Linked DNA regions of Homo sapiens: all the other regions are linked to region 1. Evidence: fine-mapped expression QTL. A gene starts in region 1. Each other region holds a variant in brackets. All regions are shown on one strand. Distances are between the middles of the regions.

What was found. PIP is the estimated chance that this variant, and not a neighbour inherited with it, causes the effect. A credible set is the group of variants that fine-mapping cannot tell apart.
Region 2: its variant is the best candidate, but not a certain one, in a credible set for the expression of KIAA0930 in whole blood (TOPMed, PIP 0.74).
Region 3: its variant is the best candidate, but not a certain one, in a credible set for the expression of KIAA0930 in whole blood (TOPMed, PIP 0.65).

The regions. Positions count from the first base shown.
Region 1 is chr22:45,236,508-45,246,210 of GRCh38, reverse strand. KIAA0930 reads left to right here and starts at 5,317. Exons shown (of 10, transcript NM_001009880.2): 1 at 5,317-5,571. The coding sequence starts at 5,508. RefSeq lists silencers at 4,994-5,193, 5,224-5,283, 5,444-5,503, 5,654-5,743.
Region 2 is chr22:45,278,369-45,288,071 of GRCh38, reverse strand. It overlaps UPK3A (uroplakin 3A), which reads right to left and starts at 3,123. Exons shown (of 6, transcript NM_006953.4): 1 at 3,007-3,123; 2 at 1,976-2,131; 3 at 621-900. The coding sequence starts at 3,058. RefSeq lists a silencer at 2,993-3,302. The variant C/T (reference allele first, on the strand shown) is at 5,061.
Region 3 is chr22:45,196,705-45,206,407 of GRCh38, reverse strand. It overlaps KIAA0930, which reads left to right. Exons shown (of 10, transcript NM_001009880.2): 3 at 496-615; 4 at 701-778; 5 at 1,090-1,191; 6 at 2,423-2,563; 7 at 3,224-3,418; 8 at 6,373-6,535; 9 at 8,460-8,618; 10 at 9,192-9,703. The coding sequence ends at 9,232. MIR1249 (microRNA 1249) reads left to right here and starts at 5,389; the gene lies at 5,389-5,454. RefSeq lists a cis regulatory region at 4,009 and an enhancer at 3,937-4,081. The variant G/A (reference allele first, on the strand shown) is at 7,710.

The DNA.
Region 1 (9,703 bases):
TCGAAGCTGAACTGGCAAGTCTCTGGGCCTGTCAGTCACTTAAAACACGGCGGGGGAGTTCTAAAGAAGCTTTTGTGGCTGGGCACGATGGCTCACACTTGTAATCCCAGCACTTTGCGAGACCGAGGCAGGTGTATCACTTGAGGCTAGGAGTTCAAGACCAGCCTGGCCAACGTGGTGAAACCCCATCTCTACTAAAAATACAAAAATTAGCCCCACATTGTGGCAGGCGCCTGTAATCCCAGCTACTCAGGAGGCTAAGGCAGGGGAATTGCTTGAACCTGGGAGGCGGAGGTTGCAGTGAGCTGAGATTGCATCACTGTACTCCAGCCTGGGTGACAGAGCAAGACTCTGTCTCAAAAAAAAAAAAAGTTTTTGTTCTTAACACTGTCTGGTGGCTGGGCGCAGTGGCTCACACCTGTAATCCCAGCACTTTGGGAGGCAGAGGCGGGCGGATCACGAGGTCAGGAGATCGAGACCATCCTGGCTAACACAGTGAAACCCTGTCTCTACTAAAAATACAAAAAATTAGCCGGGCGTGGTGGCGGGCGCCTGTAGTCCCAGCTACTCAGGAGGCTGAGACAGGAGAATGGCGTGAACCCGGGAGGCGGAGCTTGCAGTGAGCCGAGATCGCGCCACTGCACTCCAGCCTGGGCCACAGAGTGAAACTCAGTCTCAAAAAAACAAACAAACAAACAAACAAAACAACAAAAAAACACTGTCTGGCTCTTTGAATAAGATCAGCCCCAAGCATTTGGAGATAAAAATGTGTGCTGTCGGACACCGCTGTTACAATAGTGTAGAGGGATGGCATTAGGCAAACCCCGGGCAGGAACTCTGAAAAATGAAGCAAGACTGACCTATTAAAGCAATTGGATTGTGGTTGTTTTTTCTTTCTGCTAAACTTTGCTTGATTGTTGTTCTAAGTGTTTGCAAAATAAACCTCAGGGATAGAAGCGCTTAGGTGGAGAGCTGACACAATGCCCACATCTCAGGCTTGCCCACGTATTGGTATCACTGCTGTAATAATTACTACAACGTTATTGCCTTAACACATTTCCAGTTCTGTAGGTTAGAAGTTCAACTGAGGTCTTGCTGAGCTAAAGTCAAGGTGCAGGCAGGGCTGTGTCATATCTGGGGGCAACTGTAGGAGAATCTGTTTCCTTGCCTCTTCCAGCTTCCGGAAGCTGCCTGTATGCCTTGTCTTGTGGCCCCTTCCTCCCTCTTCAGTGCCAGCAACATTGCATTTACCTGACCATTCTTGTGTTGTCACATCTCTTTTTGACCACAGCCAGGAAATGTTCCCCGATTTTAAGAATTTATGTGATGAGATTGGGCCCACTTGGATAACCCAGGATAGTCTCCCTATCTCAGTGTCTGTACTCTTAGGCCCCATGTGGCAGCTCATGCCTGTAATCCCGGCACTTTGGGAGCCCGAGGTGGGCAGATCACTTGAGGTCGGGAGTTCGAGACCAGCCTGGCCAACATGGTGAAACCCTGTCTCTACCAAAAAATACAAAAAATAGCCGGGTGTGGTGGCACACACCCTTAGTCCCAGCTACTCAGGAGGTTGAGGTGGGAGGATGGATTGAGCTGGGGAGGTGGAGGTTGCAGTGAGCTAAGATCGTGCCACTGCACTCCAGCCTGGGCAACTGAGTGAGACCCTGTCTCGAAAACAAACAAACAAAAAATCACGTCAGCAAAGTCCATTTTGCCAGGTAAGGCAACATATTCACAGGAATTAGCACAGGAATTAGGGTGTGGGCATTTTGGGGCCATTATTCTGCCTATATACTTTCAATTCTATTTTATATTCTGAATATTTGTATACAGAAAAGTGCATAAATAATTACAAAATGCCAGCTTTATATATATATTACATACATATATTACATATATAACATATATATTATATATATTACATATATATATGTTATATATACATATATATATATTTTTTTTTTGAGACCAGGTCTCACTCTGTTGCCTAGGCTGGAGTGCAGCAGTGTGATCGCGGCTCACTGCAGCCTTGACTTCCCCGCCTCAAGCAATCCTCCCACCTCAGCCTCCTGAGTAGCTGTGACCACAGACGTGTGTCATCACACCTGGCTAATTTTTTTTTTTTTGTAAAGATGAGGTCTTGCTATGTTGGCCAGGCTGGTCTCAAACTCCTGGGCCTAAGCCAGCCTCCTGCCTGCCTTGGCCTCCCAAAGTGCTGTGGTTACAGGTTTGAACCACAGCACACAGCCTTTTGATTTTCTAACTTTTTTTTTTTTTTGAGATGGAGTCTCGCTCTGTTGCCCAGGTTGGAGTGTAGTGGCACAATCTCGGCTCACTGCAACCTCTGCCTCCCAGGTTCGAGCGATTCTCCTGCGTCAGCCTCCAGAATAGCTGGGACTACAGGTGTGTGCCATTACGCCCAGCTAATTTTTGTATTTTTAGTAGAGATGGGGTTTCGCCAGGTTGGCCAGGCTGGTCTCGAACTCCCGACCTCAGGTGATCTGCCCGCCTTGGCCCCCCAAAGTGCTGGGATTACAGGCGTGAGCCACCATGCCCAGCTGTGCAGCCTTTTAATTTTCATAAACTGACCACACCCGTGTAACCAGCCCCCAGATCAAGAAACAGAACATGCTCTGTAGCCCCAGAAGTCCTGCTCCTGCCCTCTTCCCATGCACAGTGTGATTTAGCATTTGTTGACATTAGAAAATTCTGTGTATATGTGAGGTCAGGAGTTCGAGACCAGCCTGACCAACATGGAGAAACCCCATCTCCATGAAATTAGCCGGGCGTGGTGGCACATGCCTGTAATCCCAGCTACTTGGGAGGCTGAGGCAAGAGAATTGCTTGAACCTGGGAGGTGGAGGTTGCGGTGAGGCGAGATCGCGACATTGTACTCCAGCCTGGGCAACAAGAGCAAAACTCCGCCTCAAAAAAAAAAAAAAAAAAAAAGAAAGAAAGAAAATTCTGTGTATAGGTAATACCTGGAGTATTATTGAAATACAAAGGAGAGAGCCCAAGCGATGTTTGTTTACTCATTCATTCAACAGATATTTTTCTGGCACCAGTCCTGGGCTGGGTGCCACGGGAAGTGGGATGAATTGGTTCAATGCTGGTCATATGACACAGAATACACGGAGGCAACTGTGTGCAGGAGGGTGGGGTGGGGAAAGGGGGTTTGTGAAGCAAATAAGAACACAATGCATTGGCCAAGCGTAACCAGGCAATGTGGGTCCCAAAGGCAACTACAGTTGCGGAGCAGAAAGGATTTCAGGCCAAGGGAACACTGTGGGCAAACGCATGGCAGTGGGAACAGGCAGGGGGTGCTGTGGGGTTTGGGGAGGCAAAGAGGGATGTGACTATTGGACTTGACAGCCTTGGAGCACTCGCTCATGCTGTCTGATCCACCATCCCCAGTTCTCACGTCCACCAGCCCAAACCCCAGCTCTCCAGACGCAGAACCAGAGGCCTCAGCCCTCATGCCAGTGTCCTCACTTTACAGACAGGGATGCAGGCCCACTGGAGAAGAGAAATACACGTGAGGCTGGTCGCGCACTTCCTTCATTCCCTCACTGCTCACCTTTCTACAGAGCCCTCCTGGGCCTGGCACTGGGGACACAGAGGGGTCAGATGTGGCTCTGCTCTGAAGAGTTCAGGGGCCAGTGGCACAAAACTGGGGCAGAGGCCTGAAGCAGGATCCAGATCCCATCTCCCTTCTGGGGCTCTGCCCAACCCCACGGCTCCTTCCTGCTGTGCCTCCCAGGAAGACCCCTGCGTCCCCATCAGACCTCTCCATCATTCTTCGTTTATGCAGCCTACATTTTTTTTTCTTTTCTTTTCTTTTTTTTTGGGGGGGGACAGGGTCTTGCTCTGTCTCCCAGCTTGGAGTGCAGTGGCGGGATCTCGGCTCACTGCAGCCTCCGCCTCCCAGGTTCAAGCAATTCTCCTGCCTCAGCCTCCAGAGTAGCTGGGATTACAAATGTGTGCTACCATGCCCGGCTAATTTTTGTATTTTTAGTAGAGATGGGGTTTCACCATTTTAGCCAGGCTGTTCTGGAACTCCTAACCTCAGGCAATCCACCTACCTCGGCCTCCCAAAGTGTTGGGATTACAGGCATGAGCCACTGTGCCCAGCCTGCAGCCCATATCTATTTATTGGGCATCTAATGTGTGCCAGGCAATGTTCTGGGTACTGAGACAACAGCTGTGTAGTAGACAGGCCCCTCCCTCGGTAGAGAAGAGAACAAGTGAACCCATAGGTATCCAATGTGTCGGGAGGAGGTAAGTGTCACCCTGTGAAGGAGAAACAGACTAAGGGAAGAGAGAGGGAGGGAAGGCGGTCAGGGGAGTTTCTTTGAGGATGTGACACTCGGGACACAAAGGAAGCAAGTTACACAGGAATGGGGAGAAGAGGACTCCAGACAGGGGAAAGGGGGACCTTGATGGGTCTGGGGTCCACACACAGGCTGTGAATGCAGGGAGTGATGTAGATTTAGCTTTGGAGAGACCTGGAAATCAATGCTGGTCTCTCCATCTCCCCCTGTTCTTGGAAATGGACCACCAGGCGTGAGGTTTGGGGAGGCCACTGGCTGCTTCTCCGGTGTCTTCCTGTATCAGCCACAACTAGCACACGGAGGGATGCTGGCCAGACCTGGCTTCATCAGGATGACACGCCCAGCTAACCTCATACCTCCCCCTTCATCAACACTCCCCCATGTTGGGGAGGCAAGGCAGGGAAAGGTCCCCCATGGTGCAGCTGAGGAAATGGAGGCGCAACACTCTGCACTGTGCCAGGTGCAGAGGAGGGGGGCCGGAAGGGCTTTGCCACGGTGTCCCCCAGGAGACCACCTTCTGGGAGCAGGTGACCTCTTGAGGGGTTCTGCGGAGGAAGTTCCCAGAAGTCAGCCGAGGGGACTTGGTGGAGGTGGCAACGCACAGGGCGGGTGACAAAGTACACATCCCGTGGGGTAGCAGCGGGGGAGGGGAGAGGTGCCCTGAAGGGGCGGCGGGAGGGGCTCAGAGGCGTGATCCCGTTGGTGGGGCGTTTAGGACCTTGGGTGGAGGCGGGACCCCGCGAGCGGTTTGAGGGAGGCTGTCCTGGGCATCCGAAGATTGGCGGAGACTGGCCGTTTGGAAGTGGGCGGGGCAAGGGAGGTCAGGGGGCGGGGCCAGGGAGCCGGGGTGGGTCCGGGCCGTTCAGAGGCGGGGCGGGAGGGGACAGGGGCGGGGCCGGGGCGGGGAAGGGGCGGGGCCGGACCGGGGCCGGGCCGGGCCGGGGCGGGGCGAGCGGAGCCGGGGGCGCGCGGGCGGCGGCGGCGCGGAGGTGCGCTCGCCGGTGCTGTGTTTGGCGGGTGGTGGCGGCGGCGGCGGCGACGGCGACGCGCACAGAGGCGGACTGTGGCTTCCTTGGTGCTCGCGGCGGGCTGCGGGCCGGGCCGCCCGCCCTCCCCGCCGCCGCCGCCCCCGAGCCTGCGGGCGGCGCCGAGGCCGAGGAGCGCTCGCTGCAGCACATGCTGCGTGCCATAGCGGAGGAGCGCGGCCGTCTTAGCCTGCGCCGCGAGGTCTGCGGCCTCGGTGAGTGGGACCCGGGGGCGAGGCCGGGCCGGGAGAGGTGAGCGTCTCCGGGGCCGCCTCTGCGCGTCCGTGTTTCTGTGCGCCCCGCGCATCTCTGTCTCTGCGCGGGTGTCGTGGTCTCTGGGTCTGCCTGGGTACCCTGTCTTCCTCCATGGCCCCCCCCCCACCGTCCCTGCATCTGGGTCTGTCTCTGCTTTCCGTCCGACGAGCGCCCCGCACCCCTGTGCCCGGGTCTCATTCGGCGTCTCCCCCTGTCAGTCCGTCCGGGTGTCTGTCTCATCTTCCTCCTTCTTCTTCGTGTCTCTGCGGGTCTTCTTCCTTCTCCAGGAAGCCCGCCCCGGGCCCTCAGCACCGCGGTAGGGAGTGTGGGCGTGGGATCTGGGTACACCCTTAGCCCAGCGCGGCAGGGTCGGGCCCTCGTTGGGCTCTGGGTGGACCTCGCTGCGAGCGTGCCCTGGCCACTGTCTCCTGCTACCCGAAGCCTTTGTCTTTCCGCACCCACCGGCCCCTCTCATCCCTTAGCTGTATCCAGGGACCTGTTGGGCAATGGCCCCCCGAACCCGCCCGCTTGGCTGAGGGGCAGGGCCTGCTGCCTCTCGGTGTGATTCTGGGCTTTAAGTCATGGATCTGCTGGGGGGCGTGGGATGGGGGTGCCTCGTATTGTTTGGAAGGGCCTGGGACTGCAGGTGTGGGTGGGGTCTCCCAGCCAGTGAGGTAATCCATTACTGATGGATCATGCCCAGACTGAAGCCCAGGAGAAGCCCCCTCTTTTGTCGTCTCAGGTTCGTCATTTTCTCCATGGAAAAGACCCCTCCCTCCTCCGTGCAGGGAATGACTTCATACCACATTGTCAGCCACCCCCCACCCCACCCCCAGGCTAGGCTGGGGATTTCTGAGGGGGTGACAGCATTGCTGAGTACGGAATGTCAGCCTTCCAGATTCACCCCTTCATTCACCGTTGGGGAAACTGAGTCCCAGAGAACAAGTGCATCCCCCTAAGGTCACACAGCTGCAGGGACATGGCAGTCCCAGGCATTCAGGGCCCCTCAGCAGGCCACACCCTGGAGGCTGGAGTGGAGAGAGGAAGTAAATTTGAATCCCTTTTGTAGGAGGCAGGCTTAGCATGGGAGGCTTCCCAGTGAGCAGGCCCCAGCCTAGCCTGCCCAGGCGAGCCTTTCCTCATGCAGGGGTGGGGTGGGGGGTGCTTATGAAGTGAAATGGACAAGAACTTCAATGGTTGACAAGGTTTCAATGGTTTCTTTCTGAAAAGGTGTCAAGATTTACTTTTGAGCAGAAGTTGGAGCGTGCTTATTCATTCATTCTGCAAACATTCATTGAGCACCTACTGTGTGCCACCGTGGCAGGCCCACCTGTCAGCTGGCACCGAATATCTGAGCTGGGATGCATCTGAAGGACCATCTGCTGCAGGTCACTTGGCCCTGTTTGCTCAGCAGCTTCAAGCAGTCCCTCCCCACTCCCCTGTCCACACACACCTATTGTCCTCTGACCACCTTTACCTGTGAGCACCTTCTCTCCTCTTCTAGGCAGCCCCTCCCGCAAGGAGGCTGCAGGGCCATTCCCAGAAGAACAGTGAACAGTGAAAATGGCACCTAGCATTTACTGAGCACTTACTATGTGCCGGGTGCTTTACTCATGCTGCAAATTTAATCCTGACACAATGCTGACTTTGCCAGGGAGCAGTATTATCTCCATATCAGCGATGAAGAGCCTGAGGGTGAGAGAGAGAGAGAGAGAGAGAGAGAGCCTGCCCAGGGACAACCAATGAGGAAGCAGCATAGCAGCATAGCCGGGACTGACCCTCTGCCAGCCTGACCTCAGAGCCTGCCCTCCACTCCCTGAATATCCCCAGCCAGGTCTTTATGTGCCTACGATACTCACGCTGTTTCCTTGTCTCTTCTCCAGGCCTCCCGCACGTGCCAGGTCTCCCCTCTTCCCCTGCTGCTGAACTCAGTCCCTGCAGGGCTCTGAAGCAGAGAAAACCTGCTGTTTTCTCTGCCCGGAAAGCCGCCCCTACTCATGTGCCCCACAAGCATCTCTAAGTTTTCCTTTAAGTCTCAGCTCCAGTGTTGCCTCTCCGGGAACTCTTTCCAGCTCCCAGGCACACAGTCCTGTTCTGCCTGTGTTCTCTTTGTGCCAGGCACATGTTTGTTGGGACAATCAGGATGATTGTGGCCTTGTCATGGTCTGTGTGCTGTCTCCCCAGTTAGCAGGTGAGGCCTTCAAAGGCATTACCCAGTCTGATTCATCTTGGTGCCCAGCATGGGGCACATACGGAGCAGGTGCCCAGTAAACATTTAGTGAACAAGTGAGAAAATTATTATCTGGACTGGCAGATGAAGGGCGTGGAGGGCCACGGAGATGGGAATCTTAGCTTCTTAGAAGGCCTCATTTTTGGCCGGGCGTGGTGGCTCATGCCTGTAATCCCAACCCTTTGGGAGGCTGAGGCGGGCGGATCATGAGGTCAGGAGTTTGAGACCAGCCTGGCTAACATGAGGAAACCCCCGTCTCTACTAAAAATACAAAAAAAAAAATTAGCCAGGCGTGGTGGCGGGCGCCTATAGTCGCAGCTACTCAGGAGGCTGAGACAAGAGAATGGTGTGAACCCGGGAGGCGGAGGTTGCAGTGAGCCGAGATCACGCCACTGCACTCCAGCCTGGGCTACAGAGTGAGACTCTGTCTCAAAAAAAAAAAAAAGGGCTCATTTTTCAGATGAGAGATTTGATGTTCAGCGAGGGGTGAGCTTACTAGGAACTTGATGCCCAGAGTGGAGCGCACCTCTCACCTCTCAGGTGTGAGTCCTGAGAGGAGCCAGAACACCAGCCCCGGAGCACTTCTGCGTCCACTGAATCATCAACACTCTCAAGCTGTGGGGGCAGGGTTGTGTTTGATCATCTCCACTTCACCTCTGTGACAGCCTGTTAGATTTATGAATGAATTTAAATCTCCCAGATTTTTGTTGTTGTTTAGCAAAAGCTTGGGTTACTCAGAAACCTGCTGTGTCCTCTGACGTTGTTTTGAAGGTGTCAAGGGAGCCTCAGGTGGAGGCGCTGGGCTTTGGTTGAGTGGTTGTCATTCTCTGAGTCAGTGTCTGTCTCTGAGATGGGACTAAGCTCCTGGCCCTCCTCACTCAGGGGTCATCGCTCAGCTCTCGTGATGAAAGGCACCTTGTAGATTTCACATCTGGCTTTTGAGGCTTGTCTGTGGCAGCCTCTGCAGTAGAAGGGGAGTTGAGCACTTGCTCTGTACTGAGAGGGGGCGGGAGTGTTGGGCCCTGATCCCTGCCTTGTGGGAGGGCACAGTCCATGGGGGAGACAGCCAGGAGCACAGGTCACTGTTAGCTGAAGTACAAACCCTGCTGGAAGCAGTGGGGCTGCGGCTGCCCGGAGCAAGATTTTGGTGTTGCATCCACAGGACACTGCTCATGACTCCAGGTCACAGATGAACCAGGTGATTCAGGACCCAGGTGTGCGATGCAGACATTTGGACTGAAGGGGGACAAACCCTGCCACTTCTTCCCGGGGCTTGGGCCTTCTCCTGGGCCCTGGGCCTCAGCCCAAGCACACAGGCTCCCTTTCAACAGGGGCAGCCCACCCGACAGTTGGTCAGGTAACGTGGACGCGACCTGGGCCCAAGACCTGGTGTGAGTCCTGAGAGGTGCCGTGAGCAGGTGGGACCCACATCCGGCTGCTTGTCTCTGTGCCCTGCCTCAGCTGAGCATTCTTGGAGCAATTTGTGCCTGGCATTTGGGGCTAAGGGATTCTCCCTGTGTCCGGAGTGGTGCAGAGAAGGGGCATTTTATGTTCATTCTTTCCTTTTGTCTTTGGAGTAATCCTGTGGGCTAGACATTGTTCTGTTCTTCTCTTTGTCCTGATGAGGGAACACAGGTTGGGGGGAAGTAAGGTGCCCCCAGCTGCAAGGCTAGGAAGTGGCCGAATCTTGCTGAGCCCAAGCTCTTAATTGCTTAACCCTGCGCAGAGGTGAGGCCCACCTAGACCCGTCCTCAGGGTGCTGAGGGTATGGTGTTCCAGGTTGTGTGGCAGCCTGGCCACAGTGGATGGAGGCAGGACCCCAGTGGAGCTGTGAACACTTAGCCAGAGGCCACAGAGAATGG
Region 2 (9,703 bases), 42 kb before region 1:
GGTGACTTCCACACACGTAGATGGGCCAGGACCAGCTGCATAATCTGTGGGCCCCAGAGCAAAATGAAAATGTGGGCCCTTGTTCAACAATTAAGAATTTCAAGATGGGCCAGGCATGGCAGCTCACGCCCGTAACCCAATACTATGGAGGAGGCCAAAGCAGGCTGATCACTGGAGGTCAGGAGTTCGAGACCAGCTTGACCAACATGATGAAACCCCATCTGTACTAAAAACACAAAAAATTAGCCGGGCATGGTGGTGTGCACCTGTAATCTCAGCTACTCGGGAGGCTGAGGCAAGAGAATCGCTTGAACCTGGGAGGCGGAGGTTGCAGTGAGCTGAGATTGTGTCACTGTACTCCAGCCTGGGAAATGGTGGAGACCCCGTCTCAAAAAATAAATAAATAAATAAAATACAGAATTTCAAGACGGTAGTTGCAGAGCGTCAATCCAAGAGGGGCCTCTTCTGAACTTGAGGCTCAGCGTGGCCTGCCTGGAACCTGGGATGTTCTCAGCATATAAGTTCTCAAGAAGTGTGGCTGCTCCTACTTTGCCCCTGCTCTCCCTCATCAGGACTGGGGAACTGCCGCGGCTCTCCTGTAGTGGTTTGTTTACACCCACCTGTACTCCGTGGCTGCCGACAGGGGTGCGTTACAGAGGCCCTGGAAGTTGGGATCCCACAGGCAGGTCCCGTTGGCACCCACCCTGACCAGGTAGGCATTCAGGATCTGTGAGGCCTTGGACACATCCCCAATGGCATCCAGGCTGGGCAGGTCACTGCAGGGGATCAGGTCAAAGGCCACAGCTTTGTAGGGACCTGTCCTCCCACCCTCTGTTTGTAGGAACGTTGAGCCCAGTGGGGTGTTGGTGCTGTCTTGCACTGAGGCATTCCTGGAAATGGCTGCAGAGGCGGTGCAGGGAGTCAGGCTTCTGGCCACTCCGGCTCAGCGACACTCACTCAGTTATTCATCAAATGCCTGATCATCCTTTCTGCCCCAGCTCTGTGCTGGGCACTGGCATCACAGGCATGGGGCAAACTTAGTCTCTGCCCTCTCAGTGCAATGTGGGAGATGGACAAGGATCACCTCCCTGCTTTGGGCGCTGTGTCTGACTCTCGCCTTATCTTGTGACATTCCTGCAACCCCCCATCCCAACAGACCTTTGTCTCTTCATTGCTGAAAGCCCTGGATTCTCTCTTGTGTAAAATGGGAAAGGAAGGTCATCGGTCCAAGGGAAATAACGTGGAGGCAGGACCCAGCTCTCCTCCTTACTAGATGGGTGACCTTGGACAACTCACTCTACCTCTTCAGACCCTAGTCTTCTATGAAATGGGAGAGAAATTCCCTACAGTGCCCGGAGATCAGGCACTTTAGTTTATAGTCAATAAACACATGCTGAAAGAAGAAAAGGATGGTCCCGAATGAGCTGTTGTAAATGACTGGCTGCTAGAAATGCAAGAGTTGATGTTGGCTTGTCTCAGAAGCTCAGGATCCCCTCCAGGGCAGGGGTTGGGGCTGGGCCACAGCAGCAGGTCCAAATGCATGGTTTTGTCTCAGAAACACCAATCTTGAGCCACCTTTCGAAGCCTCAGGAAGGACCTTGGGCTTGGGGACTAGAGAGATCAGGATTCACTCTCCAGCCCTGGGAGGTCCAGGGGGGGTTATTCCACCTCTCTGAGCCTTGCTTCCCTGCTCTGTAATGGGGATTGGTAATAGCTACCTTACAAGCTGGTTGTAGATACTAGCTCTATGGTGTGCAAAGTGCCTGGTATGGTGTAGGTGTTCAGTGACTGGTGGTGTTATTACTTCCCTCACTAACTGGATGTCCCTGCAAGGCAAGGACAGGTCTGTGGCTGCAGTACCTGTTTAATGAGACGACTACAGGCATGGAGGGTTCCTCTATCTGCCTCCTTCCCTCCTCCCTGCAGACAGGTCAGAGCCCCTTTTGGAGTAGCCAGAGGGAAGCAGGACCCTTACCTGAGTCGACCAGGACATACAGGTAGACCTCGTGGGTGCCAGTGAGGGCCTCTTTGCTGTCAAACATGCAGAGAGGCTTTTCCAAGGCCACAGTGGTAAGTGTGGGGTTGTTGGTGGCGAAAGTCACACTGGCCAGTTGGGGCTGCAGGTTCACAGCTGGAGGAGGCAGTGAGGATGGGAACTGACCTCCGGCAGAACTGTCCACACCCACTCTGCTTGCAGTTACTGAGCACGTGTTGTGTGCCAGGCCCTGGGCTTCACCCTCCCCCTGGGCCACCGCATAAGCTGTCTCAGACACTGCCCCCTGCCCAGTCATCCTGCTCAGAAATGGAGCGGTCGGGCCAAACTGCTGCCTTCTCTCCCTGCTGCAGACACTCAGTTGCCAAGAACTCCACTGCCCCTCCTAAGCATCTCTCCATGCCATCGGCCCAGCCCTCCTCCGTCCCACCTTCCTCACCTGGGCCCTCCCCCCACATGCAAGTCTGACTGCCTCATTCTCTGGCTATGGCCCTCCCATGGTCCCCCAGCGCCCCCTGACGAAGTCCAGCCTCTCTGGAAAGGCAGTGAGGTCCTGAAGTTCTGGGCTTTGCTTTGTTCGGTCTCCAGCCTCACCCCTTCCCCCACAGGCTCCCCTCACCCCAGGCTCCAGCTGGTCCCATGGACTGGCAGTTCCCAGGACAGCCCAATATTGTCTCCCCTCCATGAACTTGCCCATGCTGCTTCCTCGGCCGAAATATCTCTCTATCTGCCCCCGTCCAGGCGTCACCATGGGGCTGGGGCTAGTCCCTTCTCTGTCCTACCGCAGCCCCCCTGCATGTTGGTCTCTTGCAACACACATCGCAGGGCTGCAGCCATCTGTGAGCCCTCGGATTCCCAACAGAGGAGGCCCGTAAACGTTGGCTATCACTATTATTCATAACAGTAATATCTGGGTCCCCAGCGCCAGGAATCAGGGTCCAGGCGGCGGGCGCCCCAGGGCAGAGCTGCCCGCTCTTTCTGGGCTCAGCCCCCTCCTGCCCTTCACCGCCTACCCGAGCCGAACCGCAGGCAGCCGAGGGCCAGCAGGGCCCAGAGCGGAGGCATCGCCCGGGAGGAGCCGCCAGAGCGCGGGGCGGGCGGTCCAGCGAGCAGGCGCGGGCACCAGACCTGTCCCTGCCAGGGCACCTGCCAGCTCTGGGCCCTCGGCGCGCCCCGCCCCCGCCTGGGCTGGCCAATCCGCGGCCTCCTCGCGCGCTATTTGCATACGGCCCTGCCCCGGGCTTCCCCGACCCGTGCGCGGTGCCCCAGGGCGCAATCCCACCGGGCAGGACCTTCTCCAGCCCGCATCAAAGCGCCTACTGTGTGCCCAGGCCAGGGCAGCCCTTCCACAGCGTCTCTCACCAATGGGACCTTGAGGGCAAGCCACTCCCACTTGGAGCCTCAGTTTCCATACTGTAAAATGACGCTAATTTCTACAACTATTTATGGAGGCTCTATTACGTGCCAAACACTCACTGGGCACTCGCGAAACAAAATGGGTTGACCAGTAAAGGTGATATCCTGGAAAACGAAGTCCAGGCCTGGGAGCTATCCAGAGACCCTAGTATGACGCCTAGTATGACCCCTTCGGTTCACAGGTACAAGCCAAGGCCCGGGAGGCTGGGGGGTGGGGCAGGGGGTAAGTATTGGAGCGTGGTGGGGGGCGCGGGGACAGGGACTCACCCCCGGCCGCGCTTGGTCTCCTGGAGACACTGAGGCTGGTGGAACCCAGGAGTCCAGTGCTCAGCCCAGGGCTGCCTCCAAAGGGATGGAGCAGGGTGTTAATGCCTACTTCTTAAAGGGGCGTTTGAAAATTATGATGGACTCCTCACCATGACTGTGCGGTTCCCTCCATCACAAGAATCTGTGCACATCTCTGGATGCACCTTAAATCAATTTTACATTTAAGAAATAAAAGTAAGTCAACAAGGATAGGAAAAAAACAACAGAAGAGGGGCAAGGAGGCTCATGCCTGTAATCCCAACACTTTGGGAGGTCAAGATAGGAGGATCCCTTGAGGCCAGGAGCTAGAGACCATCCTGGGCATCATAGTGAGACCCCATCTCTACCAAAAAAAAAAAAAAAAAAATTAGCTCAGCCTAGTGGGGCATGCCTGTAGTCCCAGGATTGCTTGAGCCCAGGAGGTCGAGGCTACAGTGAACTATGATCATGCCACTTTGAGCTATGATTAAAGCTGCAATAACAGAGCCAGACCCTGTCTCTTAGAAAAAAGATAAAGAAAATCAACAGAAACTAATTAATCTCTGTATGACGTTGATGACATAACCTCACTTGCAGAAAAAGAATAAAACGATCTGAGTAATTATAGAGCTGGGTTGTCCAGGGGTACCTCCTTAGTGGAGTACACTCTAAGAACTGGGAGGCCTGTGACAGAACCCCAAACCTCACTAGTGACTTTGTTATTGGCAGTGGGGAGGGCGGAGCCATTCCGAAGCAACTTTGGGTTATCCTAGGATTGGTGGTACCAGAACCCAGATTCTCACTGTAGGATGAGGGAGATTTGGAATGGAGGAAGGAAGCACATGAGGTCAGTGTGTCCCATTATTGGGGATGTTCCATTTCATCATTTGGTAAAGTTGGTATCTCTGGATTAATGTATGTCTTGTTCCCTAAAAATCTTTTTTTTCTTTTTTTTTTTGGGGGGGACGGAGTCTTGCTCTGTCACCCAGGCTGGAGTGCAGTGGCGTGATCTCGGCTCACTGCAAGCTCCACTTCCCACGTTCACGCCATTCTTCTGCCTCAGCCTCCCGAGTAGCTGGGACTACAGGCACCTGCCACCATGCCTGGCTGATATTTTGTATTGTTTTAGTAGAGACGGGGTTTCGCTGTGTTAGCCAGGATGGTCTCAATCTCCTGACCTTGTGATCCACGCACCTCAGCCTCCCAAAGTGCTGGGATTACAGGCGTGAGCCACCGCGCCCGGCCCTTGATCCCTAAAAATCTTTCCCCAGCTGGATGCGGTGGCTCACGCTTGTAATCCCAGCACTTTGAGAGGCCGAGGTGGGCAGATCATGAGGTCAGGAGTTTGAGACCAGCCTGGCCAACA[C/T]AGTGAAACCCCTTCTCTACTAAATATACAAAAAAACCCAAAAAACTAGCCAGGCGTGGTGGCAGGCGCCTGTAGTCCCAGCTACTTGGACATCCATGTCCCGCCCAAAAGGTTTAACTTGAATCTCATCAATAGGAAACCATCAGACAGTTCTCAGCCTTTTGTTTTGTTTTGCTTCTGTCTTTCCTGATGTGAACATTTGCAAAGCATCCAGTCCAGCTGGTTTGCAGAAAGTCCCTGCATGTGGATCTGTCTGATGGTTTCCTATTGATGAAATTCAAGTTAAACCTTTTGGGCAGGACATGGTCATGACGGTGAGTTCTAATCAGTGCTACTTGGGAGGCTGAGGCAGGAGAATCTCTTGGACCCAGGAGGTGGAGGTTTCAGTGAGCTGAGATCGCGCCGTGCCACTGTAATCCAGCCTGGGTGACACAGTGAGACTCCGTCTCAAAAAAAAAAAAAAAGCAAGCTGAATGTATGACTTCCATTATTTATTTTGTGCTCAAATGTTCCCAGGCCTGGCTGTTGGCAGCTCCTTCCAGCAGCTCTGTGCTAGCTGCTTTCACGCTCCCACCATTCTTTGAGAACCTCTTTACTTTCTGGCACAATAAAATGTCCCGGGCTCCTCTTGACATTCCCTGTCCCAGCTCTGGATTCAGCCATCTCTCCAAGGGGCACTGGTGCCTTTCACTGGAGACTGGAGTTTAAGATCTAACAGTGGCAAGGTGCCTCTTGCAACTGGGTATTACTGCTTCTCGGTCTGTCTCAATGAACCTAGTTTTTTCTTTTTCTTTCTTTCTTTCTTTCTTTCTTTCTTTCTTTCTTTCTACCTTCCTTCCTTCCTTTCTTTCCTTCCTTCTTTCTTTCTCCTTCCTTCCTTCTTTCTTTCTCCTTCCTTCCTTCCTTTCTTCCTTCCTTCTTTCTTTCTTTCTCCTTCCTTCCTTCCTCTCTTTCTTCTTTCTTTGTCCTTCCTTCTTTCTTTCTTTTTTTTTTTTTTTTTTTTGAGACAGTTTTACTCTATTGCCCAGGCTGGAGTGCAATGGGGTGATCTTGGCTCACTGCAACTTCCACCTCCTGGGTTCAAGAGATTCTCCTGCCTCAGCCACCCACCTGAGTAGCTGGAACTACAGGCGCACGCCACCATGCCCAGCTAATTTTTTTGTATTTTTAGTAGAGACGGGGTTTCACCATGTGGCCAGGCTGGTCTCGAACTCCTGACCTCAAGTGATCCACCCGCCTCAGCCTCCCAAAGTGCTGGGATTACAGGCCTGTGCCTGGCCAGCCTTTTTCTTTTCTTTTCACTTAAAAATCTTGTTTTAGTAATTTTTTTCCATAACTAATTACAAATAACAAAACACCAGCATTTTCCTTCTTCCATTCCAAATCTCCCTCATCCTACAGTGAGAATCTGGGTTCTGGTACCACCAATCCTAGGATAACCCAAAGTTGCTTCACAATGGCTCCGCCCTCCCCACTGCCAATAACAAAGTCACTAGTGAGGTTTGGGGTTCTGTCACAGGCCTCCCAGTTCTTAGAGTGTACTCCACTAAGGAGGTACCCCTGGACAACCCAGCTCTATAATTACTCAGATCGTTTTATTCTTTTTCTGCCAGTGAGGTTATGTCATCAACGTCATACAGAAATTAATTAGTTTCTGCTGATTTTCTTTATCCTTTTTCTAAGAGATAGGGTCTGGCTCTGTTATTGCAGCTTTAATCATAGCTCAAAGTGGCAAGATCATAGTTCACTGTAGCCTCGACCTCCTGGACTCAAGCAATCCTGGGACTACAGGCATGCACCACCAGGCTGAGCAAGTTTTTTTTGATTTTTTTTTTTTTGGTAGAGATGGGGTCTCACTATGTTGCCCAGGATGGTCTCTAGCTCCTGGCCTCAAGGGATCCTCCCAGCTTGCATGTGGATAAAGTGTCATGATACCTGAAACTAACATATATATGAGATTCGAGAGAAAAAGAGAAAGTAAATTTAGTGTAATGTTAGCAATTGGTAAATAAGTATGAGTATTTACTGTAGTGTTCTTGAAATGTTTCTGTAGGTTTGACATTTTTCAAAGTGAAAATGTTGGGGGACAGAGTCTGTTCTCTGCCACAGAAATGCACTGTTCCCCTCTTTGGGTGTCGGTTTACCTTCTAGAAAGTGGGGAGGGAGTTTGGTCACCTCTCAGCCCTGACATGCAGAGAGCGGATGATCAGATCCTTATCTTCAGCACACAGAAAATGTCCCAGAGGTAAGGAACTCTTGAACAGGGCTGCGGTTTTCTTCCAAGAATTTTTATAGACTGACATTTCTTGTTCAACAATTGTTTGTGAACCTGGTTGTGAACCTGCAGTTTATCAGAGGCCAGCAGGGTTGATTTTCTTTTTTTTGAGATGGAGTCTTGCTCTCTCACCCAGGCTGGAGTCCAGTGGGGCGATCTCGGCTCACTGCACGCTTCGCCTCCCAGGTTCAAGCCATTCTCCTGCCTCAGCCTCCCAAGTAGCTGGGACTATAGGTGTGCACCACCACATCTGGCTAATTTTTGTATTTTTAGTAGAGACAGGGTTTCACCATGTTGTCCAGGCTGGTCTTGAACTTCTAACCTCAAGATCCACCAGCCTCAGCCTCCCAAAGTGCAAGGATTACAGGTGTGAGCCACCGTGCCTGGCCTCAGCAGGGTTGATCTTAAAGGCCCAGCTCAGAATCACCTGTGAGAGGAAGTAGGCCCAGGAAATTGTTTTCTCCAAAACGCTGCAGTTTCTTTAAAAAAAAAACAAAAACCCCAAAAAGTCCTCTTGTCTCTTGCCTTGCCCAAATATGGGGAGAACATTTGAAGGAAAATGTTAAAACAATAATCTGCAAAGGCCCAAAACATGTTCTGGAAAGAAAAAAATCTTAGATTTATAAACAAATGTCCACTTCAAAGATTGCTGACTTTTGTTTGGCTCATTCTGAAGAGGGGGAAGTACAGGAGAAATGAGTCATGGTGGGAAATTCACTTGGGAGAGACCATTGCTTGTGTCAGTGGAGGGGAAACAGGAGAAAAAGGGGGCCTGACACCTGCCAGTGTCCCTTGCTGCTCCACGTGCACTTTCCTAAGTTTATTTGTTTTTTTCTTTTTTTTTTTTTTTTGAGACAAGATCTCTCTGCGTCACCCAGGCTGGAGTGCACTGGCATGATCCCTGGTCACTGCAGCCTCGACCTCGCTGAGCTCAAGCTATCCTCCCACCCCAGCCTTTCTAGTAGCTGGGATTACAGGCAGGGGCGACCACACCCAGCTAATTTTTGTATTTTTATAGAGGTGGGATTTCACCATGTTTCCCAGACTAGTCTAAAACTCCCAGGCTCAACTGATCCTCCTGCATCGGCCTCCAAAGTGCTAGGATTACAGGCATGAGCCACTGTGCCCAGCCCAAAGTTAAAAAAAAATTTTTTTTAATGTTTCCTTTTTGATCAGGCCACTTCTAGAGCACTCAGATTCAGTCTGACTTGAGGTCATTTATACATCTAGATCCATCAGACCGTCCTTCTGAACCCTGGCCTGGAGGATGTGTTTGTCTGAGGCCAGAGAGGCAGGAAGTTTTGCGATGTGAAAGGTTAAGCAAAGCCCAGCCCTTCACAGACCTCCTTTGAATCTGAAGCATGGGGAATTTATGGGCTGGAAATTCTTGACCCAGAAATGTCTCTCCAAACACTGAAGAGCCCGGGTCCAGTCGGTTTCCATGACTCCTCTCTTCAGAAGTCAGAGAAGTTGCAGGAATCCCACCACAGCAAGTGCTGGCTTTCATTGTGGGGGCTCTGTCCCAGGACTCTGGAAGTCAAGCTTTTCAGTGCTTTCAGATTCAGCTACTTTATTTATTTATTTAGAGATGGAGCCTTGCTCTGTTGCCCAGGCTGAAGTACAGTGGGGCAATCTCAACTCACTGCAACCTCCGTCTTTCGGGTTCAAGCGATTCTTCTGCCTCAGCCCCCCATGTAGCTGGGATTACAGGTGCGTGCCACCACACCCAGCTGATTTTTGTATTTTTTTTAGTAGAGATGGGGTTTCACCATGTTGGCCAGACTGGTCTTGAACTCCTGACCTCAGGTGATCCACCTGCCTCAGCCTCCCAAAGTGCTGGGATTACAGGTGTGAGCCATTGTGCCCGACCAGAGATTCAGTCACTTTAAAACGAGAAACAAAAACCCCAGTGGAGAAACCCAAGTCCCTGCCTGGTGCTCACTCGTCTATCCTCACTCTGTGATGAGGACGCCCACTTTGCTCTAAGGGGCCCCCACCTGTCTCCCAAGCTCCAGACCCACATTTCCAGCTGCCCGTCCTGCAGAACATGCCCTCCTTGGTGACTCCAAGGGGCCGCGCATGACAGGACTCTCTGAAGAGCCGTGTTCAGCCCTGGCTGTGATTCTCATTGTGGTGGTCCTTACCCTTGGTTTCTTTTTCAGGAAGATGGGGATGCTCAAGGGGTCCTCTTGCAGAGGGGTGGGATGAAGTGCAGTCGTGGGTGTGAATGTGCCCTGTGACTGCGGTGGTGGGCAGTGGCAGGGTCCCCCACATTCCCCAGGTGTCACCACAGCCCTGGGCTCTGTTGGACTAGTCCTGTCTCCTCTGGGCCATCTCTTTCCTTTCAGGCCCCTCTCACGTAGAATCC
Region 3 (9,703 bases), 40 kb after region 1:
ATGAAGAAACTGAGGCTTAGTGAGGAGAATGGATGGCCCCTGGGTCCCATCTCCCGTCGCTAGAGAACTGGGGAGCAAGAATTGGAGTTCTGGCCGGGCATGGTGGCTCACACCTGTAATCCCAGTACTTTGGGAGGTCGAGGCAGGAGGATCACCTGAGCCCAGGAGTTCAAGACCAGCCTGGACAACATGGCGAAACGCCACATCTACAAAAAGTTTTAAAAATTAGCCGGGTGTGGTAGCACGTGCCTGTGGTCCCTGTTGCTTGGGAGGCTGAAGTGAGAGGATCATTTGAGCCCAGGAGGTTGAGGCTACAGTGAGCTGTCATTGCACCACTGCTCTCTAGCCTGGGCAGCGGTGTGAGACCCTGTCTCAAAAAATAGTAAGAAAAAAGAATTGGAGTCCTTGTCCATCGTAATGCCTGCATAGTAGTCAGGGAAGAAGAAGAGCACCACAGTGGGCCCTGGGCACTCACTTCTGCTCTGGGCCTCGCAGGCAGCTGAGCCTGAGGTGGAGGTGGAGGTGTACCGGCGGGACTCCAAGAAGCTGCCAGGCCTGGGAGACCCTGACATCGACTGGGAGGAGAGCGTCTGCCTGAATCTCATCCTGCAGAAGGTATGGGGTGGGATGGGTGGGGCTGCGGATTGGCCCTGTGGGATGGCTGACCCCTCCCTGCACGCTGACCCGTGCTCTCTTCCAGCTGGACTACATGGTGACCTGTGCGGTGTGCACACGTGCTGACGGCGGGGACATTCACATCCATAAGAAGAAATCTCAGGTGAGCCCTGGCACGAGAGCCCCCAGCCTCCTAACTGCCAGTTCAGGCTGGGCGTGGCAGAGAGAGACAAGTCCTCCTGCTTGCTTCTCTGCCCTGGAGGTGAGGGGTCTGACTCCAGAAATCTGCTCAGCTCCTGGGATCCCGTATCCCATTCGAGGAGCACAGAACCAGCTTATCCCCCACATCTCCTGGTAGGTCTCTGGCTTTGGACTGGCTCTGGGCCGGGTGGCCTCCCTATACTGGCTTGGACTGGCTCTGGGCCTGTGTGCCGGGTGGGGCCTCACTTGTCCTCCAAATCTGCTTTCTTCCAGCAAGTGTTCGCGTCCCCCAGTAAACACCCCATGGACAGCAAGGGGGAGGAGTCCAAGATCAGCTACCCCAACATCTTCTTCATGATTGACAGCTTCGAGGAGGTGAGCTCTGCACAGGGCCTCTCTCCTTAGCTTCCCCTTCTCGTGAGATGGGTGTTAGGCGCTTCTCCCCGCGGCCTTAGCCTTGCAGAAAGGCATGGGTGGCTTGGAGCCGGGAAGAGTCCGGCTGAGGCAGATGTGGCTCTCTCTCTTCCCAGTGTTTGCTTGTGGGCAGGTGAATTTCCCCGGCGCAGCCTCCGTTTCCTCCTCTGTAAAATCAGTGTCATGATCATCTGTCCTACTTACTGTCAGGGCTGAAGACTAAAAGGCTCCTGAGTGGGAGGACGCCTCATAAACTCTTGCAAGAAGCACTGCCCGGGCGGGAGGAGCCATTATTAATGCTAGTAAATGATAAAGAAGCGCCTCCACGCCTGCACTGACTTGGAATCCTAGGATGTCAAAGAGGGATGGGGTTTCCGGAGTTATCTGGGCCAAGCCTTTGTTTTAAGGTTTGGGAAACGGGCTTGGGCAGAAGGAGACTCACCGAGAAACACAGGGCACTGGGAGGGCGGGGAGGGAGCCGGTCGCAGCTCACTCCCTGCTCTGCCCATTTGTGTCTCTCCTCTGTTGAGGCCCTGGTCGGGGTCCTTGTGCGCATCCAAGGTGCTCAGGGCCCTGAGGACTTAGGAGGAAGGCGTGGGCGTCTGCAGGAAAATCGCAGGCTCAGGGAGGTCATGTCCCCTCCCCAGGCACACGTAGCTCCTAGAGGGCAGAGCTGAGATTTGCGTCTAAGTCTTTGTGGCCTCGGAGCTCACAGTCTGTGCACCAGGTCCTGGGAGCAATGACTCGGGAAGGTGGCAGGATGGGGCCTGTGGCACCTTAGTCTGGTGTTGTCACCCCAGGTGGGCAGTCACCCTGCCACCACACTGAGCCTTTGGCCACACAGGAGCCTCAAAGATGTGGCAGGCAGGGCTGGGCACCCCTAGGCGGTGTGGAGGGGCCCAGACGGTGGCTGACGGTCCTGGTGAACCGTGATGAGGGTGTGCGTCTTCTGCCAGTCCCAGAGTCTCCGTAAGCGTCCCTGTCCTCCCCTGCTGCTCAGCCCCTGCCCCAGTGTGAGGCTGTTCTTGTCCTGTGGGGCTCGGAGGGCATGGGGCCACAGGAGTGTGTGACAGCCGGTTGTCCCCTGCAAAATGGGGTTTTCTGAGCAGCCCTCCCTGCCAGTTGGGCCAGGCTGTGGTGTGGGCGGTGGGAGCTGATGGTCACGTCCCTGTCTCTTTGTGTCCTGGCCCAGGTGTTCAGCGACATGACCGTAGGGGAAGGAGAGATGGTCTGTGTGGAGCTGGTGGCTAGTGACAAAACCAACACGTTCCAGGGGGTCATCTTTCAGGGCTCCATCCGCTACGAGGCGCTCAAGAAGGTGTATGACAACCGGGTGAGTGCGGGGCGGCCTCACGGGTGTTCTTCTGGGCCCGGGGACGGCGGCTCCACAGCCCACCGTGGTCCATACCATGGGGCCCCCCAGCCTGCTTGTGCATGGTAGCGGCCGCCAGGGGTACCTGCAGCCCCTCCGGGCTCCTTCTAGGCGCTCCCTGGTCCTCTTAACGTCATTCTTCATGGTCGGCCTCAGCCCATGCGGGCCACTTGCCTTCATCTGAAATGTGAGCGGGAACTTCCTCCTCAGTCTCTAGTTCCCTGGGAAGTGATGGCTGATGGTGTCGCTGTCACCTCCTCACTGTCACTTGCTTCCTGCGACTGGCCCTGGGAGTGCTCCGAGTCGCCCCCAACTAAGCAAGCAGATGTGGGCAGGCCCCTCTCCCCCAGCGGGCACCATCCGCAGCCAGCCTTGCTGCCAGCCTGGGGCCCTGTCCTCAGCCTGGTCCGTGGTTCATGGGGCGGTGGGAGGGGCACCAGGAGGGGCACCAGGCAGAGATGTGGGTCCATTCCAGCTGCCCCGCCTGCCAGCTCAGACGCTCCCTCCCGGGCAGCCCCCGCTCCTTGAGGGATGGTCGCCCTGGCTGTTCATGTCCTGGGGAGGGGCCCCATGGAGCCATCGCCACCTCCCTGACTCAGGCTGCCCCGCGCCGGCCCCCAGGTGAGCGTGGCCGCCCGCATGGCACAGAAGATGTCGTTTGGCTTCTACAAGTACAGCAACATGGAGTTTGTGCGCATGAAGGGCCCCCAGGGCAAGGGCCACGCCGAGATGGCGGTCAGCCGAGTGTCTACAGGTGACACATCCCCCTGTGGGACTGAAGAGGACTCCAGCCCAGCTTCGCCCATGCACGAGCGGGTAAGGGCTGCACAGCTGGGGGCGGGGGCTCCCATCCGTCAAGTTCACTTTCCACCGTCTCCCCCGTGCTCACGGCCCCCTGGGGACATAGGTGTTGTCATCCCCAACCACCAGTGCGCAGGCCGAGGTGCCGAGCGTGCGGAGGCCCGGACCACCCAGCCCTTCTCTTTGCCTAGCGGTTTGTAGGAGGCACTGCCGCAGGGGAGGCGTTCCTGCCTTGCAGACCTGGAGGGCTGTGCCTGGCCAAGGTCACACCGCAGGCTGGTGCTGGGCCAGAGCTCTTTCTGCCTCCCTGAGATGCCACAAAGCCAGGCTGAGTCCACAGAGCCAGTGGGCAGAAGAGACTGGCTGGGGACCCAGGCCCGGCCCTGGCGCCTGCCTGGGTGGACCTGCTGGGTGAGCGTGGGCACGTGGCCGGCCTTCCCCGGTGAGTCAGATGGGGATGATGGTGACTGAGGGTCAGCCAGCGCATGCAGAGGCCTAGGCCACCCAGCTCTTTGCCCCGCGGTTTGTAGGAGGTTCTGCTGCAGGAGAGGCGTTCCTGCCTCGCACAGCCGGAAACCAGACTTGCCAGCTTGCCCCAGGTCACAAGGTCTCTTGGGATAGCACTGGGCTTGGGGCCCTGCTCTGCCTAGGCCACTCTCCTTCCCCAGGGCGGGAGGCTGAGGTCAGCAGCAGCTTTGTTCCCAGAAGCCTTTGGTGGGGCACAGGCAGGAGAAGGTCTCCAGCCCACTGGCTGCTTTGCTCTACCTGGTTCTTCCAGAGGGACTGCCCAGAGCTGTAGTTCTTGGAAGAGTACAGGTGTGCTGGGCAGGGGGGTGCCCTTGGCACAGGTCCAGGGGCAGTCTTGCCCAGCCATTGTCCAGGAGAGACGCCACCCACAGCCAGAATCCTGCTCTGCTGCTCTCATAACCTTGGGTGTGTCTCTTTTCCTCTCCAAGCCTCAGTTTTCTCATCTAGAAACAGGGCACGAGGATACCTGCTCCTTCAGTATTTGGGAGGCTTTGAGGAATCCGGGGCTTGGCCCTCAGGAGGATTCCCAGGTGGCAGCTGCAGTAGTTGCTGTTGACCTACTTGGAAAGCAGAGGCGTGGGAATGTAAACGATGCATTACCGCAGGCATGCCTGAGATGAGGGAGTGTGCGTTTGTTATACTTTTAGTTCGAGAAAGATCTGAATCATGCATATCTCCGGGTGGTCAGATGTTGGTTTTCTTTCTCTTCTGTATATCTTTTTTTGGGGGGGAGGTATCTTCTGCAATGAATGTGTTTTGCAAGCCAAAGACAGCAAGTGCTATTTTTTGCAAAGATGGGTGAGAATTCCAGGCAGGGGCCTCTCTTGTCTTTGGAATGAGGTGGTTTATATTTCTGAGTTTGTTTCCGAGATAAAGGGCCTGGTTCTTCTCCCTGGTCCTAAATTATGCCCTGGGACTCTGACAAAATGTGTGTGTGAAAGTCCTTACGAAGATGTGGCCCGAGCTCTGGGCTGGACAAACCCGGGTGCCACCTCCAGCCACAGCCTGAGGGCTGAGTGACTACAGGTCACTAGACCTGCCTGAGCCTTGGTTTTCCCATCTGTCCAGCGGGAGTGGCTGTGAGGGGTGTGAAAGTCCCTGGTGCCTTAGCAGCTGGGCAGCCCTGGGATTCAGGAGGAGGGATGTGCTAGGGTCACACAGGGTCAGCAGCAGGGCTGGCCCCTGGGGACTGCCGCCTGTGCGCCTGCTATTACCTGTCTCCTTCTCTGGCGGGGTCGTCTGGAGCCAGTGCGTGACACATGCTGACTCTGTGTATTGTGGTTGCTGCTGTTTGTTTCTTTTATCTTTTAAAAACCTTCCCCGGCTTGTGGGAACACCGTCTGGAGCCCAGCAGCTGCCAGGACTTTGGTGGATGTCGGAGCCGTGACGAGGAGGCTGACGGGGCTCCCGAAGTCTCAGTCCCAGCTCATCCTGCTCCTCAGATTATTGTTGGCATGGGGAGGAGGGAGGAGATGGGCCAAGTTCCCTCTGGCTGGAACGCCCTTCCCCCCCTTCTTCACCTGGCGAACTCCTACTCGTCCTTCAAGACCCAGCTCCAGCGGCATCTCCTCCAGGAAGCCTTCCCTGATTTCCCAGGCTGTGGATCCCTTTTGCCTCTGTGCTTCATGTATCCTGTGCTTCTCTTTCTCTGTCTCCACAGCCAGCATGCTGTCTATGGTTGTCACTCTCTGAGTCTGTCACCCCAGCAGACTGTGAGCTCCTTGAGGGCAGGGACCTGCAATGTGCCTGTCTGTCCTTAGTGCTGTGCCTGCCTGGCCCTGAGTGGGTGTGAATGTTTGGTGAACAGAACCAAACGTGATTAGAAGTGGGGAGAAGACAGAGGCATAGAGCTACTTAGCACAGTATTTCCTGTGAAGGGTGCTGGGAATGAGAGGGATGGGGCCACGTCAGCCCTGAGAAGTAGGATGAGGAGCGTGGCCCTGGGGGACAGAAGACAGGGCTGCTGCCGTCCTGCTTGGTGACCACAGGCAAGCCAGGGTCTCGGTCCCTGCCTTAGTTTCCCCATGTGTCAGATGGGCTGACGCTAGCCCCTGTCTCACGGAGCTGGAGGCTCAGAGGGTCTGTGTGTGGGGCCAGTGCTCACTCAGCGTCAGCAGCTGTTGTTACTTTGTGCTTGAACACCCCCTACCCACTGTTTGAGGCCCAGAGGAGGGGGGTCTTTCTGCCATTTGCGGCAGCAGCCTGGCCCCTCCTCGGGTAGCACTGGTGGCCAGGTGTCCTGCTGGCCCCTGGGCTGGAACGCATCTTCCAGTCTCTAGGCCCCACCTAGCACGGGCCGGCTGGGCCTGGGTCCTCCTGGGCCAGCGGCCTCTTCCCTGGGAGCTGTGTCAGGTTGTTTGAGGGTGGGATAGGAGGGGCGTTGGGACCCCCGGGGAGGGGGCTGTTCTGCTACTCTGGTGACTTTGGCTGCTTGTTCCCAGGTGACCTCCTTCAGCACACCCCCCACCCCAGAACGGAACAACCGGCCTGCCTTCTTCTCCCCATCCCTCAAGAGGAAGGTGCCCCGGAACCGGATCGCTGAGATGAAGAAGTCGCACTCGGCCAACGACAGCGAGGAGTTCTTCCGGGAGGACGACGGTGGAGGTGACCCCCCACTCCGTGCCCTAGGGTCCCCGTGCCCTTCAGTCTCTTCTTGATCCAGACCAGTCATTCATTCATTTATTCATTCATTCATTTGTTCATTCAGCAGCACTTAGAGAGTGGGTGCCATGTGCCAGGCAGCCCTCCAGGAGCTGAGGGGTAGAGCTGGGGACAGGCAGAAATGGCTGCCTCTGGGGGTCCCGTCCTGGTGGGCTCAGGCGTCTCCTTGGCAGAGTGCTTGGAGCGCAGATGTGCAGCAGTTGGTCAGTTTCAGGGGATTTCCCACCTTTCTAAGGCTTTTCAGCCTGCTTAAGGAAGAAAGCGGATGGGTGATCTGATGGCTCCGCACACACGGGGTGTGGCGGGAGAGAGGAGGGCTTCCCTCCCTTGCGCTGCCTTGGGCCAGCTCGCCCTCAGGGTGAGGCCTGGCCCTCCTGGCTCTGTGCAGCCTCCCAGAACCACGTGCTCTTTGGTGACACAGTCGCCACCTCGTGCAGCCTACCCCCGGGGCCTTCCTGTGCCCCTGTCCCCTGGACTCCGGTTGTCTGTATCTGGGTGTTACCATGCCCCTTAGTCCTGCCCAGGCACAGTCTGCACTCTCTCCTGAGCACCCGTGCCTGCTCCCTGTCCTCGCTCAGTGACCTTCCAGAATACAGGAGTTGTTCCCAGAGCCCCCAGGGAGGCCTCTGAGGGGTTTTAAGCAAGGGAGTGACACAATCAGATTAGCATATTTAAAATGCCACTCAGCAGTCTCTGTGGGAAATGGCTCCTGGGGACAGGCGTGGCCGTCACAGACAGGTTGGGAAGTTCTGCCATGCTCTGCTGGCATGGACCACGTGCCTTCCTCACTGTCATCCTCAGGACCCAGCGGGCGCCTGGCTCCGCACTGTGTGCGTGTCTGTTGAGTGTATGGAAGTGAAGGATTGGCCAGGCACAGTGGCTCACCCCTGTAATTCCAGCACTTAGCGAGACCGAGGCGGGTGGATCACCTGAGGTCAGGAGTTCGAGACCAGCCTGGCCAACATGGTGAAACCCTGTCTCTACTAAAAATACAAAAAATTAGCCGGGCATGGTGGTGGGCGCCTGTAATCCCAGCTACTCAGGAGGCTGAGGCAGGAGAATCTCTTGAACCTGGGAGGCAGAGGTTGCGGTGAGCCGAGATCGTGCCACTGCACTC[G/A]AGCCTGGGCAAGAGTGAGATTCCATCTCAAAACAAACAAAAAAAAACGACGTGAAGGATTCGCTGACAACTCCCACTGAGCACCTCCCCCAGCAGGGAGCAGGGCTGCAGCATTGATCAGAAGAGGTGGCAGTCTTTGTCCTGACCACTGGGACCAAGAAGCAGGGGTGTCCCACCTGCTCAAGGCCCTGGCCTGGGTCAGGGACTCCAGCACTGGCCTCGACCTGCTCTTGTGTGAACTTGGGCAAGCCCCTTCCCCACCTGGGCCCGTTCCCGAATCAGTAAGAAGTACTGATCACTGCCCTAGTCTGCCTCTCTGGGGCAGGTTCCCCCAGCCTGGACCGCAGGACTGGGTAATGGTGCAGGTCGGCTCAGCCTTGCTGCTCCCATGCTCTGCAGGTGGCGGTGCCTAGTTCCAGGGACAGGGCCTGCAGAAGCAGAGAATTACACAGTGTGTGTGCCAGAACCCCCGGAGGAGACTAAGCTTGTGACAGAGAAGAGAGAGATGAGGGGGGTGGCCAAAGTCTTCCTGGAGTTGGAGGCCTGGGTCTGGGCCAGAGGAAGCAGGGAGGGGTGTTACAGGCGAGGAGGCAGCAGCTCTGGAGCGTGTGGGTGCTGGTGTGGGGGTGTTGGTAAGGAGCGTCCTGGCCTCAGCAGAGTTTGGCCTCAGCCTGGACTGGGAGCTGGCCTCCTGCTGCTCCCGCCGCGTCCCATGCTGTGGGGGCCTTGACCTGGCCTTCTTTCCTCCAGCCGATCTGCACAATGCAACCAACCTGCGGTCTCGGTCCCTGTCGGGCACAGGACGGTCCCTGGTCGGGTCCTGGCTGAAGCTGAACAGAGCAGATGGAAACTTCCTTCTCTATGCACACTTAACCTACGTCACGTTGCCGCTGCATCGGATTTTAACAGGTAATGCTGGCGGATGTGGGGAAGCAGCCGCACCTTCTCACAGCCAGCTCTGCCTCCAGGGCCTTGGTACTTGTGAGCCACCCGGAGTCATCCCGCCCTGTCCTGTCGGTTGGTTGGGTTTCTTTGCAGGGCTCTTGGCCTCTTTGTCTCAGACTTTGGGTGGAGCCGTAGCTTTCCCAGAGCTGAAGTCCTCCCTTTGTTCACCTTTCTGGCGCACCTGCTGTCCCCTCTTGAGTGGCCACAGATGCCCAGGTGTGTGTTACTCACGGGCGAGGGGAGGCTCTCAGGCCACCTCGCTGACCCAGGCCTGCAGCAGCTGTGACAGGCAGTGGCTCTGGCCCCCACACCAGCTTGCACCTGAGGCCCTGCAGGGTGTGCCGTTGCTGCGAGCCCATTTCCCAGTCTGCAGGGTGAGGATGGTGGAGACACGTCTCCTCTGCAGTCTGTGAGGCCTGGAGAGGAGATGCATGAGTGGCTGAGGCGGGCTTCCTTCAGAAGTGGCACTGCCGTGACCATAGCACTCACCGCTGTTGAGGGTTACTGTTTCACCTGCTTCCCTCCTGCCGGCCCTAGACATCCTGGAAGTTCGGCAGAAGCCCATCCTGATGACCTAGCCGCGTGCGGAGCCTGCGCAGAGCCCCGGCCGGGCCCAGCCCTCGGAGTGCTGCCAAGTGCCTACCTGTCCACCGCCACCGGGGTCTGCGATGGCACGCCAGTGCTGGAGCCGCAGCCAGGCGAGGCCACTCGACTCCCGGGGCCGGGGCCGACTCCACGAACACCAGCCCAAACTGAAGTGCCTCTTCCCTCCCCTGCTGGCGCTGCTCCGCCCTGTGCCCCCCGCCCATCGCCCCCCACCCATCTCTGGAGAGCCCTCTGCACCCAAAGAGGACTAGAGATGCCGAGCGGCCATGAGAGAGAGCGGAAGGAGCAGCTGATGCCCAGAGCGGGGCCAGAGCGGCGGGTCTATGTTCACGTCCCCCCAGCAGCAGGCGGAACCACCCAGCCAGGGCACTCAGTGCATTGGACTGTCCACATGTTCTTGAGGAAAGCCGGTGGAAGATTCTGGAATGCCGTGCGGATGAACT